Linked DNA regions of Homo sapiens: all the other regions are reported to be linked to region 2. Evidence: microRNA targets listed by miRTarBase, many of them from high-throughput screens and not tested one by one. Region 2 holds a microRNA gene; each other region holds the end of a gene's coding sequence.
Evidence for each region. The annotated mature microRNA hsa-miR-6870-5p reads UGGGGGAGAUGGGGGUUGA and lies in region 2 at 2,268-2,286, opposite strand. An mRNA with a match to its seed (bases 2 to 7 or 8) in the 3' UTR can be bound and repressed. Matches are read on the target gene's strand: a 7mer-m8 pairs with bases 2 to 8, a 7mer-A1 pairs with bases 2 to 7 and ends in A, and an 8mer does both.

Region 1 (4,524 bases), not on the chromosome of region 2:
TGGGGACTGGCCAAGGGGGTCCCTAGAGCAGCCTGGCGGCCCTTCTGTGTTCTGACCCAACCACTGTTTATTTTGCAGACAGTCTCCATTCTGGAGCAGCGGTTGACACTGACAGAAGACAAGCTGAAGCAGTGTCTGGAGAACCAGCAGCTAATCATGCAGAGAGCAACACCATGATCAGGGGAGCAGGAATCAGGAGCTCGGTGGATTTGCAGGTGGCAGGCCAGGGATTTGTACCATGGGACTTGGGTAAATAAAGGGGACTGAACTCTGTGGGAATCACATCCATACTGGAGCCCTGGATTTTTGCAGTTCTGCCCTCCACCTTGCTATCTGCACCAGGAGGCTCTCCACCTGGCAGCCAGAGGTCCCCAGTGGGCCGGGCTCACACACAAATGATGCTTCAGACCCGAATGAGAGGACCACATTTTGCTTAATGTAAAGGAGCCACTTGAAAATGTCTGCTCCTTCGGGGTCCTGAGATTGTGGCTCCCCCTCTGGAGGAGGTGGCTCCACGATGCCTTGATTTTCACTCATCATTTGGACATGTGACTGGCTTTTCCTACCTCTGCCATGGTGTAGAAATTGATTGCACATTGATTGGATGAGCCGGGGGTTTTCTCTAAATCTGACTAAAGGCCCAAAGTGGGCCCATCTGAGTCAGGTTTGTTGAGAACAAGCCCTCTCAAGTGGGTGGTGGCTTTTCAGTGGCCCTGATTTCTGTTCCACACGTGTTCACTGGAGCCAGGTGACTTCCTCCTTGCGTGAGTGAGGGCACAGGAATCTCAAAATTAAACCTGACTTCATTGCACTTGTTGCAGGAGTGGCTTATGCTGGATGACACTTAATCAATCTTCCCATCCCCAGGGCCCAAACAGAATGAGAATGGTGACTTGGGACGGCCTCTGCCAGGATTGCCTCTGAGGCCAGGACCCCCCTGTTTGCAGCTGTTCAGGGTGTCGGGGAACAAGGGCAGTCAGAGCCCTTGCATGCACCCACCTCCCTCTGGCTGGCCCCCACTGACTGCTTCTGTTGGGACTCAGAGGCCTCAGGCACCCAAGTTTCCATTTGCTCCTGAGGGCTTCCATAGGGTCCTCCCTCTGCCCCTGTGCTGGGGAAGCCAGGACAAATGTTTTCCCTGTGTCTGTGTGTCGCCCGTGCCTTCCGTCTTCAGCTTCTTGGGGCTCAGCCAGCCAAGGAGGTCTTTATCCTCAAACACACCTGCCCTGCCCTGGGGAATGGGAGGTGGTGTTAGATCGTCCCAGGAGCTGTCAGTACCACGTGGTCAGTGGGTTCACAGCCTCTGCAGCCTCCAGGTGGAAGCAGAGCCTGCATGCCTCAGAGCCTGGACTGACTAGAGGGCAGCTGTGTTGAGTCCTGATGACGGGACGCTTTCTCTGGCCTACACTGGGTGGGGAGGGAGCTGCCTGTTGCCAGCTGTGTGACCTCAACATTGTGACCTAACCTCTCTGAATCTTGGGTTCTTATTGTGTGAAGTGGTTGTGATACCCTCCTCTGGTGACAAGGTAAGCAATGCACTGTGCTCAGTGCAGAGCAGGTGCTCAAGAGAAGCCCATCCCCCATCAGTCCCCCAGTGGGACTCCCCATCCCCACCAGTCCCACTGGATCTACAGGGTCTGCTCTCAACACCATCCTCCCCCTGCACTGTCGATGGGAAGAAGCTGCGGGCTCAGGGTGCTCTGGCAGCTGCTGGGACCTGCCGCACTTTTCCCACGTGGCCCTGCCGGTGTGTGGACGAGCCTGGCAGGCCTGCTGGTCCATGCTGGCAGGTAAGTCTCTTGGCTACCTCAGGAGGCTTTGAAGTAGAGTCTGGGCAACTGCAGGTCAGCCTGCTAAGAGGAGGTGCAACTTATGGGGCCAGCCGTGTCGGTTCCCTCCCATGCCAGCCCTCCTGCCACCAGACCAGCACTGGGCTGCCTGTTGTGGCTTCCGGACCTGGGCTTGGACCTACCATGGGTGGAGATTCTGATGATTTGAGCAACCAGCCCAGGGCAAGGTCATCTCCAGAGACAGATGACGGCCCCTCTGGGGGCAGCAGGACATGTGCAGGGTCTCCAAGGCGTTGTGTGGCAGGTCTTGCTCTCAGGCCAGACCGAGGTTGCCATCACCCCTGTCTTCAGTTTACACCAGGATCGAGTTTGGAATCTCTATGAAATCCACCTTTCTCTGCTGGAGGACATGTGGAGTTGCAGGAGGTGGTCTTAGGGGTAGTGGTGTGGTATTTGTCCCTGATTGTTGACTGCCAGTGGAAGCTCCACTGGTTACTAGATGTAAGGGGTCAGGAGGAAGGACTCACTCCCACACACTTCTTGTAGTATGATATCGGCGTGTCCTGGGACAGCCTGACGTGGGCTGTCCAGATAGAGACAGGCCAGAGCCAGCGCCAGCGCCAAGCTTGGATAGGCCCACGCTCAAGCCCCATGGACTGTCAGAGGGCTCTGCTAGAGTGGTCTGGGTGTCCACGCCCACACCCCTCCCTTGATGGAGCCACCAGCCAGACCTGGAATTTGTAGGCAGGATGTTCTTCTTGGAATGCTGCTCTTTAAAACAGCACAGGCCAGGTGCGGTGGCTCACGCCTGTAATCCCAGCACTTTGGGAGGCCGAGGCGGGAGGATCACTTGAGGCCAGGAGTTCAAGACCAGCCTGGCCAACATGGAGAAACCCCGTCTCTACTAAAAATACAAAAATTAGCCGGGCATGGTGGCTCACGCCTGTAATCCCAGCTACTCAGAAGGCTGAGGCAGGAGAATTGCTTGAACCCAGGAGGCGGAGGTTGCAGTGAGCCGAGATCATGCCACTGCACTCCAGCCTGGGGGACAGAGCAAATCTCCGTCTCAAAAACAAACAACAAAAACAAAACAGGACAGAGACTGCCTCCACCAAGCCAGGGGGTCAATGTGTATCACCATGCTGAGGGCAGAGCTGGGGGTGGGGTGGGTGCCAAGGCTCTCACCTGGGGCCTGAGTTCTTCTTGAGTTCCTTTTCTTGCTCATGCGAGGCTTGACTCAGGACCTCACTGCTCTGAGTGAGAATCTGGTGGGAGGGAAACGGGGTCCTAGGCAGCTGTGACTGCTGTGGGCATTGTCCCTCTAGCCTCAGTTCTGTACCCTCACCCCCTCCCCGTGGAGATGCTGCAGGCCCCCTGAGCTACACACCACACTGCCTGGGAGTGTAGGGCCCTCACAGGCAGCAAGGAGTGTGGGGCCTGGGTGGGCTTGAGGTGGCTTGGCGAGGTGTGGGGGCCACATGATGGAGCTTTCTTGCAGAATCTCCCTAAGCGACGCTCTGCCAGCCCTACCCGATGGCTCCCTGTAGCTGGGGCTGCTACTGATCCCCCACTCTTGCTGCCAAGCACAAAAGCAGCCCTTCTGGAAATGCAAATGGCTCGGCTCAGCCGTCATCTCTCCTAATTTTGGATTTGGTAACTGAGCTCTCAGAAACCAAATTGCAGGAATCTCTTTTGTGTTAGGAAGATGAAGTTAGTTTAGCATTTTTGTCAGTAAGTGCATATCAGCAGCAATTCCCCATCGTTTGCCTCCCCAGCGCCTTCATGCCCTAATTTTCCCAATGTGAAATAAAAGAATAGATGTCTGTGATTTAAACTGCAGCCTGCTGCCTACCATTGTCCAGTTTCTGTGGGTTCCTGGGATAAACCTGCACTTCCTGCTGGAGAAGCTGAGAGGTGGCTGAGATGACCAAGGCAGGCAGCTTGCAGGTAGAAGCCATCAAGTCCAGCCCCGGCCTGTGGCAAGGCTTTCCGCCTCTCACCCAAGTCACCACACCCTGGGAGCGCCTGACAGGCTGTGTCGAGGGGTTGCCACAGGCTTGTGGCCACCTAGTCACCCACTTCAGAGACTCAGGTAGCACATGCCAGCCTGCTGTGGGAACTCTGCCATCCTGCCACCCAGCACAGTCCTTGGCCTTCTGTCCTGTGATTTGATTGCCACAGCATCATGACTTCTCAGTGGTGGGTGGGCGGGGGGGTGCTCTGTGGGGCAAGGGCAAAGTGGTGAGGTCAGGAGGCCCCCAACCCATGGCCCAGGTCCAAACCCTCGCTCTCTCCGACTAGTTCTGTGACCTTTTTGGGCCTCTATACAATAGTGCTTGTGTCATTGGGCACTCACTACAGTGGCTGGTGCAAGTTAAGTGCGGTTAGTGTGTGACCATTGGTGTTATCCCACCACTGGCCTGGCGAGTCAGGCCCCTTCCCTGAAACTTGGCCCCATGTGCCAGTGGGGATGGTGGGGGGGCTCGTGGTCCCAGGGTCCCTCTGGCTTTGTAATGTTAGGCAGCTAGAGTTCTCATCTCCTGATCCCATGGCCCCTGCCATGGGTGTCCCCGGTGGTGAGAAGGGATTGGGCCCCTCCCCACCCGAGAAGGCAAGCACTCTAAGGCTATCTCTTCTGCTGTCACTAAGGCCACCTCTGGGGAGAGCACAGGCTTGAGGGTGGGTGTTTGTGATTGCCCCGAATCCTGGAAGTCCAGCCCACTGAATAAGCGAG
Region 2 (3,836 bases):
GCAAAAGGACCTGCTTTATTTACTTCCTTTTTGATCTTAAGCAAGGCTCAAGGACAATCTTATAGAAGCTTTAAATGTTGTGCTGCCTAATACAGCAGCCACCGGCCACATGTGGCTATTTACATTTAAATGAACTAAAATGAAATAAAATCAGTTTCTAGTTACACTAGTCACAGTCCACATGGCCTGGGGCTCCCATACCTGACCGTGCAGATACAGAACATCCCCCTCTGTCTGCCGTTGCAGGAAGTTCTGTTGACAGTGTTGTTCTCAGGCATTTGCCTCAGCGTTGCACATCAGCCCACCCCAGAACAGGAATGCTAAATGGATTTCACATTCTCTCCCCTGGGCTACTTGTAGACACGGCTCTCCCACTGGCAGGCCGGAATAGATTGTTTCCACGTGTTGCGGCCCGCTACACAGGCAGGATCATTTCACTATAGAGGTCCTCCTCACCAATACATTACTTCTCAAGTGTAACAAGGGGCAGTGGTAGTAAGTGGGGACAAAAGGAGCAAGTCTGGAGACAGCCAGGTCCCGGGAGAAGGGAGGTACCTTCACAGGGGGTCGTGCGGCAGTGGTCTTTCAGGTGTGAGCAGTTCTTGCCCTCATAGTCCTCGGGGCACTTGCAGAAATAGTCACTGGCACGGTTGTAGCACTGGGCACCGTTCTGGCAGGGATTAGGCTCACAATAATCGATGTCCAGCTGCAAATATCAGGAACAGCGAAAAGGGGGAGGGATCAGAGTAAAACAAAGGTGTCACGATAACTTCTCTGGGGCAGCAGGCACTGGAATCTGACAGTTCCTTCGGTTTCTATTAGGAGACACCCTGTAAGATACATCTCTATGCTGTAGGGACTGCCAATGTCCAGTATTTGAAACAACGGGGCAGAGTGGGAGAGGGAGCACAAGAGGGGGTGGAGGGAACCAAAAAGAACACAAAGACGAAGACACTAAGAAGAAAATAATTCGTCAGTATCTCCTTCCACCAGCATTTGTCTAGCAGAGACTCTCTCATCAATAGGATGTTAATAGATGTTAGGAAATTCCAGACACAAGAGCTGAGGGAAAAGTAAAGGGAAGCGGAGGAGGCAGCGGCTCTGCTCTAAAAACTTGGCCATCTGAGGTTTTGCCACCACTCACCTGACAGAGGTTTCCAGAGAAACCAGTGGGACACAGACACTGGAATCTGTTGATTTCATTCTGACAGTGACCCCCATTCAAACAGGGGTTGCTGGCACATTCATCGATGTCTCTCTCACAGTGATCGCCTGCATAGCCAGGTGGACAGATACAGCGATAACCATTAACCAAATCCTAGAAGAGGAGAAGGGGAGAGAGAGACACATGCTTTTTTTCTATGTATTCCACAAACACAGGGCTTCAGCGGTTTAGCATGACTGTTGCGGTTTAGCTGGTTCACTGAAATAGCCAAATGCTAAACCTCTGAAAGTGGTTAGAGGAATTTCTATGTGCATGCCTTCAAAATGACTCCCACGAGGCTGGGGTAACATAAGCCCTAGCGAAACTTCCAAGAGACTCTTTTTTCACCCAAATTTTTAAATCTCACAGGGACAGAGCTCTCCTAGTGTCGCACAAATCTAAAGATTTGTTGTCAATTGTCAAAGTTTTGATTTAAGCAAAGATTTACATACCCGACAGGAGGCGTCATTCTGACACTGGCCAAGGCAGTCATTAATATCTAAAAAATAAATAAGTCATCATTTTAAAGAGGTAATTTACAGTGAAATTGGGCTTAATTGAAAAGCCTTCTCAGCTCAGGATAGATAAGTTTCAAATCAGATTTCCTGTGTGCTTTCCGTGAGATAAGGTTATTACGCTGGGTGGGGACCCTCCCTAATTCTTCCAGAATGAGGGAGTGAAACTTCACATCATTGTTTCAGCCACATTATCAGAATATGGCTGGTTTTCGCAGCTAATGAGCCTGATAAAGTGTATGTTTTCACTGCTGCCCTGACCACTCCCTCTCAAAAAACCATTCCCACTCTAAGGTTTTCCTTCTACTGCTCAAGTCCTAGGACTGGAGCCCCAGTACGGACCAGCAAGTCGGCTACCCAAGTTTCATGAAAATCAAAATGGAAACAAAGTCACTCACTTATGTCACAATTCTGACCCATCCAGCCGGGAAGACAGTCGCAGTAGTAGCTGGCAATGAGATTCTTACAGGATTTGGCGTTTACACAAGGTTTGGCCTCACATTCATTTGCATCTGAAAGGAGATGGGGATGAGCATGAGAAATGAAGTTCAACCCCCATCTCCCCCACCTTGGAAAAAAAAAGAACAGGCCAGAGTTTGTCTGAGACATGAGACATTTTAATAAGCTAGCTAAATAAAAGATACTAGAGGTTCCCTCTATTTTAAGCATCTGATCCCTCTCCCTAGCTATTATCCAATAAGAACCCTAATTGATAACTTTCCAGCTGCTAGTTAACCAGCCCCCAACAAAACAGCAGAAAGCCACCAGGCATTTCTGTGCAAAACCCAGGCAGCCTAGTTGCTGGGATTTAAATGTGGCAAAAAGAATGCAGACAGCTCATTCCTCATGAGATCATCCCCTTTTGGAACCCAGCTGAACACTCCTCGGACAGACGATTGACATGGTTCAAGGAATCCCACGACTTTCCCACAGGGCCTAAAAGAGCTAGTCCATTTGCATTCAAGTTATTTCTCCCAGGCCTGCTAGACTCTTGATAATAAATTACTTCTTAGCATGATGGAGTGTGAACTCACACTGCCGGCCACACGCTCGTCTTCTGTAATGGCTTTGACAATCAAAGCCAACCTTGGTATAAAAATTACAGTCACAGGGATGTTCTTACCTAACTGGCACGTTTTCCCAGTCCACTGTGGGGGGCACACACACTTAAATCCGTTAACCAGGTCCTGGCAGGTGCCCCCGTGGGAACAGTTATTAGGAGAACAGTCATCAATGTCTGGTCAACAAGAAAAGGAGGGGGTTGACAATTTAATTCAATCCATCTGACAATTAGATCCTTTAACATCACCTCTTACATGAGGGGCTGTCATTGAAGAGCCAGACACCTGCTACAAGGAAAGCTACAGCAGGACAAGTGGGACGGTGACGATAAGGCCGAAGCCTTGATTTTAGCTTTAAATCCCCCACTGCCCCAGTTCATGTAATCCCCAACCTAAGCAGTGGGGGAGAAAGACAGCTGGATACTGACGGAGCATCCGCCCAGGAGGAACACAGGACATCTCTATCTGCCTAATCTTTATTTTTAAAGAAAAGTTTCATCATGGCTCAGAAGTAGCTAAGAAGTCAGGAAAAATAGTTCTTTACAGGTGGAAAACCTTATTCCTCTCATTTGCTTACAGAGTTTGCCCAAAATAGCACACCTAGAGGCTGCATTCTCCACTTCTGCTCTGACCAGAGACAACTCCTAACAATTTATGAAGTATTCACTTTTGTGTCTTTATGACAACCTCGGAGATGGGAATTGCTACTGTGCCATTTAAAGAGGGCCCGGGGAGCTTCTGTGGCCTGCTGGAGTTCCGCAAGTGACAGGTGGGGGCCTAGGACCAGCACAGGCAATCTGACCCCAGAAATCCACATCCATAACCACACCTGGGGTGCTGATGACAGCGGTTCTCAGACCTGGCTGCACTGCAGAATTCCAGAAGTTTATCAAAGACCATGGACTCCCCGATTCTGGAGGGAATCTGGGGGACCCAGAGATTTACACTGTAAAGCAGCCCAGGTGATTCTGATATACAGCCCTGTCTCACAGCCAAAGGAACTCTGCAGGCCAGGTTCTTCTCTGGGGCCCCCTGGCCCTATGACAGAATCCAGTA
Region 3 (4,640 bases), not on the chromosome of region 2:
CCGGTAGTGCTCAGGTGCCAGGTATATAAGCGTAGCGTGGAGAAAAGAAAAGGTGTAAAACAGGGAAGATTTGGGCGACGCAAGGGTACGGGAGACTAGTTAGCCGGCGACATGACTGGGCTGGCATTCGAAAGATCTGGGTTCTCATCCTCCCTCTGCTCCTTGCAGGCCACGTGCCCGTAGAAAAGATACTCATCCACTGTGGGTTTTGGTGTCGCCGTCACCCCACTGCCTCACTGGATTGTGAGGATCATATGCGACAATGTATTTGAAAACGACTAGAACATTATCGGAGGAAGGTGGACTCTGAAGTAGTCGCTGTAGACTATGGATGTAGAACAAGGGTTTGGAGCCCTTCGGACATGGTTCTAACGCGGCCTGACTTCTTGCTGGCTACATGACCTTGGACTACATAATCACGCCTCTTAAATGGGAGGTGATGACAGCTATCCTTGAGGACCTTAGAGAGAACTGATTTCTTAGTACCCAGCCTCACAAATAGTAAGCTCTTGGTAAAATGGTTTTTTCCTTTTGGGTGGGAGGAAGAGGGTGCTCGGATGACCAGCAAGAACCCTGGCTAGAAATCTTTGGGCCCTGAACATTCTAATGACAGTGCACATAATTTCTGTGCCTGTATGTGCATTTTTCTGGGGAGTGGATCCATAACCCCCAAAAGGTTAATGGAAGAATTACCTTGTCTAGGGGATAGGTTTGGAATAAAATGAGTGCAATAGTTTGGGAAAATTAATTGGTTCCCTAGTTGGTTCACAATGGTGCTAGCTACTTTGGGGAATATAAAAGGTTATTAGTCCTACCTGAGAATGTACAATCTGTAGGGACGAGGATCTGGATCAATATTGGTGACTAATTAGGAAATGAAGAAAGAGAAGAGCCCAAAGTGACTCCGTGGTTGATTTAAAGAATGGTTTTGTCAGGTGTCAAAAAGTGAGAAGTTAATAAACAAGAGTTAGGCCTATCTGCAGACCCCAATGGTTACTATTTTTCTTTCCTTTTAGGTGCATCACTTCATGGAGTTATGTTGGGATAAATGTGTGGAGAAGCCAGGGAATCGCCTAGACTCTCGCACTGAAAATTGTCTCTCCAGCTGTGTAGACCGCTTCATTGACACCACTCTTGCCATCACCAGTCGGTTTGCCCAGATTGTACAGAAAGGAGGGCAGTAGGCCATCCCCCAGGAGAATGACAGAAGCAAAGGACTTGTTACTAAGCAGATTTAAGGGTCAGTGGGGGAAGGCTATCAACCCATTGTCAGATCAGCATCAGGCTGTTATCAAGTCTGTTGGTGCTAAAAAGTAAAAGATGAAATGTTCAAAGAGTGAAATTTATTTATTTGGAATTCAGAAATTCCAGGTTGTATGACATCAGTTACTCAATAAGTGTGAATTCTCCAACTCTTCTTTTAATCCCATTTTAGAATTTAATATAGAGATCTCTGATTGGCAGGAACACTAGAAATAAATGTTCCATGGCCAGTAGTGCAAATGGGGGATTGTAGGTTTTGAAAAACCACCCTAAGCCATATTAAGGGGGTTGGAAGAACCATCGAAGCCTAAGGCATAGAAGAAAATTTGGGGTTAAGAAAGATGAAGAACAAAAAACAGCTTTATTGCTTATACATGACCAAGAAAAGGAAAACATGGCAAAAAAAAAAAAAAAAAGGCAAGATGTGTATTCCTTGCGAAAGAACAAGCCTGCTAACTTGGGAGGAAGGGAAGGTCAGGACCCAAATAGAGCCAATTTCCTGGAGATGGCCTGTTCTACTGGCACATTTTCCTGAGTCTGTGCTTAAAACCTTTCAGGTACTTTCAGGGCACAGAAACAATGCATGCTAAAAAATATATGGCCAAAGCTCCTTCCAACAAAGATTTAACTTGCTCCAGGAACAAAATAATTGCTTTAGGTTAAGAGGTAGTAATTAGAGACTATTCTTCTCCCTTTAGACCCCCACTAATCCCAAAAATAAAAATACACACCATGGAACACTGACAATTGAGTACCAAAGTATTAAAATTTAAAATAAATATCCCAAAAGGTAGCACCTGCTCATAGTTAAGGGATAGGGCACCTCTGTCCAACCATGTATTTTAAGACCAAGCACTTTATTAGAAATCTGTCCCGTAAAGAGAACAAATTTAGCAGTTAGAACTAAAAATACCAACTCATGGAATGTCATCATAGTTGTATCTACTGCTGGTGTCTTATACTGTCATGCTACTGTGAAGTAATTCCGTATTACACATCAGGAAAGTAAGGCCAGGAAGGTGAACTTACCTGCTCTGGGCCTCCTCATAACCAATGAGTGGCAGAACCAAGACCGAAAGTCTGAGTTTTCAAGCTTTTTACTCAGCCCATTAAGTGACAACCAGGAAAAAATAATACGTCACTTGATCTTTCTTCCCACAGTGAAAAAATGCACTTGCGTTCTGCCAGCCTTCTTTCAGTGATATGTTGGTTTCTTAAGAATTAACATACTAAGGATCACAGTATAGCAAAGGGAATTAATGTGGTCTCTGCTTGGTGCTTTAATCCAAAGGCAGACTGGGAAGAAGTGGATATGTCCCTGAGAAGCCTGTTTCATTTTGGAAATAATTCAACTTAGTTTCAGGGAAAACCTAAACTTCATGAACAGATTTAGAAATGAACAAGACAACATTTAAATGGCAGTTGCTGCCCTGAATCCAGAGTACCATTAGACAACATGATTATTTCCTAATTCTTCCCCATTTGGTACAGGATTATCTATGACAATTGAAGAAATAATTTGAACACAAGTCCATTTAGGCAAATATACAGCAATGGAACTAGAAAACCATTTACTATCCAATTACCATGTTTAGGCATATACTAAGTATAGCTATAGGCCCCATCCAGCAGGGAAATTTGCAAAAACTCTAGTCCCTTCTAATAAGTTGTCTATGGATGTTATCATGAAGGGAAAAGGTTTGTTCTTAGGCCCATGTCCTGATTAAGTAAACCGGACCACACCTGTGGGGTCAAAATATAGAAGGATCAAAGCACCAAGGCTAAAGACAAGTTAGTTGTGACACCTGCTATATAAACAGAGAGCAATACAGTGTTGCCTTGTCATACCATCCTACATGGCATTAGTTCCAATCCACCTCTTGATCCCAGCCCTTGACTTCCCCAAATTCAATATTCCGATTGGTGTACCCAGGTCACTATTGGATCCAGCTTTCTGGGTCCTTTAATTTGCTGTATATGCACTCTACACTAAACGTAATTAATTGCAAAAAAAAATAATCTCTTCAAGAAACCTTCATAACAAAATACCAGATTCCCTTTTAACAAGAAAAGGGGATCAAGCTTAACGCCAAAATAGAAGACAAGACGTCTGTCAGAACATACAGATGGCACAAGACAGCTCTGACCTCAGGCCCCGTGCTGAACAAGAGTCACTGGCAAAACCACAAGGAGTAAGAACTGTAAATATCCACAGTCATGTGGAAAACAAAAGTGTTTCCCATTTAGTCATCCTCTGAGCTCTCAGCAGACCTTTCATCTGTAGCTACTTTCCAATTTGTGCGTTTGTTTGTCCTCTCCTGTATTTCATTGTTGGCTACAGAGGTATGGGCTTTTTTCTCTCTCTTTTTCCTTTTGGTTTTCTTAGTGTCTCTTTCCTCACTTTCCTCAGAACTGCTGGATGCTGAATCATCTGAATGTGAAGTGTTACTTTCTGCCTCTAAGAATAAAGCAGGTTTTTTGAGAGACTTTTTCCTGGATTTTTTCTTGCGTTTATGTGGTTGTTTCCCTTTCCTTGTACCAGAAGCCCCAGTTTCTTCTGAGAACTCACTCGAGGAATCTGCTGTTATATCTGTGGCTTCCTTTTTGCTTTTCTTCTGTTTTTTGTGTGACCTTTTTTTCTGCTTTTTTTTGTGGGATTTCTTTGACTTCTTGTGTTTGCGGGATTCATGGGTAGATGACTTTACCTGGGGAGATGTTTTCTTCCCGTTGGTAATATCTTGCTGATCACTACTAATAAGAAAAGTTAAAAAATAGAAGCTTTTATGTAAAAAAAAAGCGTATTATTTTAATATTTTGCATTCTAGATTAAAAAATTGAGGTTAACATCTGAATTTTAAATAAGCACTTTAATGTATACTTTAACACTTTAATATTCTCATTGAGTTTTTGTTTCCTCATCTTTAAAATGAAGGTAAAAATTCTAAGCTGCCATACTGAGTTACTGTATGGAATACTATATATAAAAACCAAAATGCTTACAGACATGCCAAACATCAACCAGAGAATGGGAAAACAGGGATCACCTCCTAACTAAATCACCTATTGTTTCTCTAGCTACATTTTTGATGGCAAGTATATTCTTCGTAAAAGTTAAGAAATCAATTTATAATACAGATTTTGTACCATCTTAGTTTCTTTCAGTAAGCCTATTTTCCTTACCTGTCTGTTTCAAATTCTTCAGGGTATAACTCTTTATAACCACTGTGACCCCATCTGTAATATGACACATCACATGTATTGTTAAAGCAATGCATACATTTTTGGAAATTAAAGCAACATTAGAAAGACTTTGGAGTACATGCATACACAAACATAAACACAAAGTAGAGATATGGTAGAACCAAGCCCCCATTATA
Region 4 (4,505 bases), not on the chromosome of region 2:
GCTCCTCCAAGACGAGTGAAAATCAGGGATGGGGTCTAGGTACGTGATGCAGTTGGGCCCTAGGGGCTCTGTGCCCAAAGCCATGGGGGTGCCACCTCTCCTGCCATAACCATACTCTCATCCCTTGTGTCTCTTTCTCTACAGGTACCAACAGCTCTGAGTCACGGAAAACCAAGAAAAAGAAATCCCATCTGAGCCTGGTAGGGACTGCCTCCGGCCTAGGTTCCAACAAGAAGAAGAAGCCAAAGCCACCGGCACCCCCGACGCCCAGCATCTATGATGACATCAACTGACTTGGGTGCAAGGGATAGCCTTTGGCTGAGCAGAGCCCTCTCTCCTGACCCCCACCCAGGTGGCATAGCCTGGCAAATGGACGGCTGCTGGGGGTTGGGGCTTGGGAAGCTTGGTGGGCCAGGCAGGCAGAGGATCCGATTATGCGCCCCTGGGGGGTGTCAAAGTCCTCTGCAATGGAGCACGACTCCTCGGCGTGCAGGACTCAGACCTGGACATATTATGCCTTGGACATAAGTTTGGTGGGGAGGCGGTTTTCCTATTTATTCTGTGAGTTACTGGATGTCCAGCTAGGCCAGGGGCCTGACCTGGGCACTGTGCCAGGGCACTGCCTGCCCCCCACCCCAGGAACTGGACTAAGCCCTGCTGAGGGGCAATGTGGCGACCCGGGAGGCTGTGGGTTGGAAGCTGAGCCTGGAGGGGGCCTGCCTCGGCCGCCCTCAGCAATGTGAATGGGTCCGGTGCTTGGAGCTGAGGGGCAAGGCTGGGCATGTCCTGTCTGTGTGCAGAATCTTATCAAATGCCCCCAGTCCCAGGGGTAGGCAGGCACAGAGTGCTGTCTGCTGAGGTGGGCGTCCAGAACTGCCGCCACCTTCCCTGCCCCTCACAGGGGCAGCCCTTTCCCCTCAGTCCCCATGGGCCTCCTTGGCAGCAGGAGCTGTCCTTTTGTTGGGTGCCAGGAAAGGGCCTCCAGCCTCTACAGCTTCAAGGAATGGGAAAGGGAGGGTAGGAAGAGGGAGAAGTGTCAGAATTCCTCCCCCTGCCTCTCCTCCCTGACCCAGGGCTGGTGAGGAGTGGGGCCCCAAGGTGAGAGGGAACGGTGCTGCTTTATTTGAAATGTTTTCTTACCTCATTCCCTGCCCCAGGAAGGGACCCAGCCTCACCCTCCTGGGGTGGCCCCGTGTTCCTCCTGCCCACCCTGCCCCACTGCCCTACCGGGGCAGCCCAGGTTCCCAACTGCTGCTTCCACCCCCTTCACCTTGACTGGCTTCAGTTCCTCTCAGCGCTCCTGCCTCCAAAGCGTGCCCTGTTTCCCTTCCTTAGCGCTTTTAAGTTATTTATTCTGTACTTGTGGTTTGGGGCTCTGAGGAAAATCCTAATCTTGTGCCTCTCCCCCTTTGCTAGGAGTTGGGTGGGAAGAGAGGGTGGCCTCTGTGCCCCAGGTTGTCAGTGGAGGGGAAGGGGTGTCACTGCCCCTCTGTGGGACTGTCATGCCAGTGTGCCCACCTGCCTGGTCTACATCCTAAAGAGATGTACCGTCCCCCCTCCATGCGGGCACCACCACTCCCAGGAGCCAAGCTGGAGGACCGCGACCTGGGCTGGGAGCAGAGCTGACTGACATGGGTGGAGGTGACCCTGAGCCAAGTTCTCTGGCACTTGCTGGACATGTCCCCTACCCTCTTCCCAAGAGGAGCCATCCCACATTTGGGTAGTTAGTACCCAGGACTGGTTGGACTGATCGGGTTAGGGACCCTAGAGGGTTAAGGGAACAACAGAGATGGGGCTGCAATGCCCTGTCTGGAACTCCGCTCTCCCGCTGGGGTGGTTCTGATTGTGGCTCATGCCTGGTTGCAAATTGGTTTTTAACCCACAAATTGTGATTATTTTTTAAAAAGCCAAACAGATTTTGGCAGGAGTTAGAATAAATCCCGGGGCCTGGGCTTCTCTATTCTTGGCCCTCCGTAGTCTCCCTCCGAGAGGAGGCCAGAGGGAGAGGAGGATCTCAGCAGGCCTCTAGCCGCTTCCAGATGCAGTCTGGGGAGTGGGCTGAAGGTGAAGGGAGGAAGGCTGTGGGCCACTCTCCCTTCTGAGAGGCAGCTGCAGCTCAGGCCCTAATACACTCTTTGCCCTGTGGCCTCTCCCTTTTCCCCCCTTCTGGTTGGAGGAGGGAGAAGTGGGAAGTAGCTTGGGAACTGGTTTGTCCACATAAACTTCCCCATTGTTCCTTGGCCCGCCCTCAGGGCAGAGCCCCCTGCCCAGGCTGGGTAAGAGATGGGCTTGGTCCAGCAGGGACCCTGAGGGAACAAACCCTTTTCCTTCTGGGGAGAGAGTGCCCCCCCTACCATGTAGTTGAACAGGGGCTAGGAGCTCCCCACTCCCCTCCCTCTAACAGCAGGCTGTGTGGGTTTCAATTCCCATCCTTCCCACCCCGGCTAGGTGTCGTCCACCCTGTATCCTGTGTCTGAGTGTGTGTGGGGGGGTTCTGTACTAATTTCCATGGCCGGTGGCTTTTCCTTCCATGCATCACTCCCCCCCGCATGCCCAGGGGCCACCCGCCTGGCATTACCGCATGCTGGGGTCATTGGGGGAGGGGGGTGGGGCTCACGCTGTCCTGTGGTCTTGAGATTTTTATTTTTGCATATGTAATCCATTCTGTACAGGTAGCTAACTTTGTAAACGCTGTGTATTCCCTCTGCCCCCATGGCTGCTGGTGTAAATAAACTGCATCTCCCGTTGGTAGCCCCGGCCTACCTACTCTCATTACCATTTTCCTGGGGGCAGCGCAAAGCCATTCTCTGTCACAGAAAGAGGCTGCAGGACCACAAAATGGAACTTTATTCAGTCACAGACACTGACCCTCCAATAGCCCCAGAAGCAAGAGCCTAGGGCCCAGCAATCCATACCCAGTCCTTGGAGTTGGGCAGGGTAGGACGCTGGCCAAGGGCCAGTGCTGTCTCTTGCTTACAGCCTGAGGACTACGGGAGCAGCAGCTGTGGCCTGGCCGCTCCCAATGCTGGGGGCTTGGCTTGGTGCCCCATCCCCTTCCTGACTGAGCTCTATGAAGGACTCTTAAAAAAATAAAATAAAATGCAAGCAAAGTGCTTTGAAAGAAGGGAGGACACCCTATTCCTGCTAAGGGGTAGAGGAAGAAGGTGAAGGCGGCTAGGTGCCCATAAGAGAAGGCTGGCACAATCTTCATTCCCGCCAGTGTGATTTCAGTCTCAAAAGATGAGTATTTGGCTGAGAAATGGAAGGATACTCCAGGCTCCCTACGGAGTTGTGCTGGGGCCATGCTGAGCTGCCCTTGCAGGCAGCCCTGGGTGCTGGGGGCAGACATGCAGGACACTGGGAAGAGTCAGAACCACAGGTGGGAGGGAATCTCAGAGCCCAGGCTCCCCACTGAGCTTGGCCAGCAGCTTTGAACTCCTTCAGAGGACCCTAAAAGTGAAGGAAGATGACATCCTCATTTCTACCTGAGTTGTGCTCGCACGGGAGGGACATCTGTACTCCTGTGGATGAGAAGGGGAGGCCGCATACTTGCCTCCTGTGTCCTATGGAGGAGATTTCCATCACATCCTTTCCACCCCTCCCTCCCCGGCCCTTGGGCCCAGCTCTGGCCAGGAAAAGTGGGGAGGCCGTAAAGGAGAAAGACCATGCCTTTCATTTTCTTCCTATGTCCTTATCGTCCATACATCCCAAATACTAGGAAGCTGAAGAAGACGGTGACTCCCACCAGGGAGACAGTGGCAGGTGCTGTGAAGAATTGGCGGTAATTGATTCGGAAGTACCAGACCACACCCAACAGCACCACAAAGACAGGCACCATGAGGCTGCCCACATTGACACCAAGGCTGGGTGGCTCAGTGGCCGAGGGGGCCAAGGAGGCTGAGGGGCCTGGAACAGCTGACCCTGGGGGTGAGCGGTGGCAGTGAATCACACAGTTGTCGGTAATGTTCAGAGAACGCAGTGTGCGGGCTGGGTCTTGTAGCAGGCGGCCCTGGTAGATCAGTTTCATCTGGCTTTCTTGTCCAGGGAAGTATTTGCTGTAAGGATGAAAGACATGGAAGAAAAGATAGAGGGTGAGGAATGAGAAGGCAAACAGGCCTGGACCAACAAAGCAGGGGAGTGGGGAAAAACTGGAGGGTGGATTTTTTTTTCCCTCATCTTTATCCTTTTTTTTTTTTTTTTTTTTTTGAGACGGAGTCTCACTCTGTTGCCAGGCTGGAGTGCAGTGGCGCGATCTCGGCTCACTGCAACCTCTGCCTCCCGGGTTCAAGCAATTCTCCTGCCTCACCCTCCCGAGTAGCTGGGACTACAGGAGTGCGCCACCATGCCCAGCTAATTTTTGTATTTTTTTTTTTAGTAGAGACAGGGTTTCACCATGCTGGCCAGGATGGTCTTGATATCTTGACCTTGTGATCTGCCCGCCTTGGCCTCCCAAAGTGCTGGGATTACAGGCGTGAGCCACCGCGACAGGCCCCCCTCATCTTTAT

Region 1: the mRNA of POC1A is a reported target of hsa-miR-6870-5p. Seed matches in the 3' UTR shown: 7mer-m8 at 490-496.
Region 3: miRTarBase lists NKAPD1 as a target of hsa-miR-6870-5p. Seed matches in the 3' UTR shown: 7mer-A1 at 1,504-1,510.
Region 4: the mRNA of ATXN7L3 is a reported target of hsa-miR-6870-5p. Seed matches in the 3' UTR shown: 7mer-m8 at 1,046-1,052, 7mer-m8 at 1,402-1,408 and 7mer-m8 at 2,539-2,545.

What each region holds. Positions count from the first base shown.
Region 1 is chr3:52,071,540-52,076,063 of GRCh38, reverse strand. It overlaps POC1A (POC1 centriolar protein A), which reads left to right. Exons shown (of 11, transcript NM_015426.5): 11 at 79-838. The coding sequence ends at 177. Among named protein-coding and RNA genes, the nearest start is that of LINC00696, 8.7 kb to the right of the region's middle.
Region 2 is chr20:10,647,405-10,651,240 of GRCh38, forward strand. It overlaps MIR6870 (microRNA 6870), which reads right to left and starts at 2,291; the gene lies at 2,232-2,291. JAG1 (jagged canonical Notch ligand 1) reads right to left here. Exons shown (of 26, transcript NM_000214.3): 9 at 2,843-2,956; 10 at 2,118-2,231; 11 at 1,657-1,703; 12 at 1,145-1,318; 13 at 556-706. RefSeq lists silencers at 263-312, 3,777-3,836.
Region 3 is chr11:112,081,839-112,086,478 of GRCh38, reverse strand. NKAPD1 (NKAP domain containing 1) reads right to left here. Exons shown (of 6, transcript NM_018195.4): 5 at 4,444-4,497; 6 at 1,329-4,014. The coding sequence ends at 3,507. TIMM8B (translocase of inner mitochondrial membrane 8 homolog B) reads left to right here. Exons shown (of 2, transcript NM_012459.4): 2 at 1,017-1,679. The coding sequence ends at 1,184. Among named protein-coding and RNA genes, the nearest start is that of TIMM8B, 2.6 kb to the left of the region's middle. RefSeq lists an enhancer at 1-168.
Region 4 is chr17:44,190,051-44,194,555 of GRCh38, reverse strand. ATXN7L3 (ataxin 7 like 3) reads left to right here. Exons shown (of 13, transcript NM_001382309.1): 12 at 1-39; 13 at 145-2,751. The coding sequence ends at 293. It overlaps TMUB2 (transmembrane and ubiquitin like domain containing 2), which reads right to left. Exons shown (of 4, transcript NM_001076674.3): 4 at 2,627-4,055. The coding sequence ends at 3,692. Among named protein-coding and RNA genes, the nearest start is that of TMUB2, 5.3 kb to the right of the region's middle.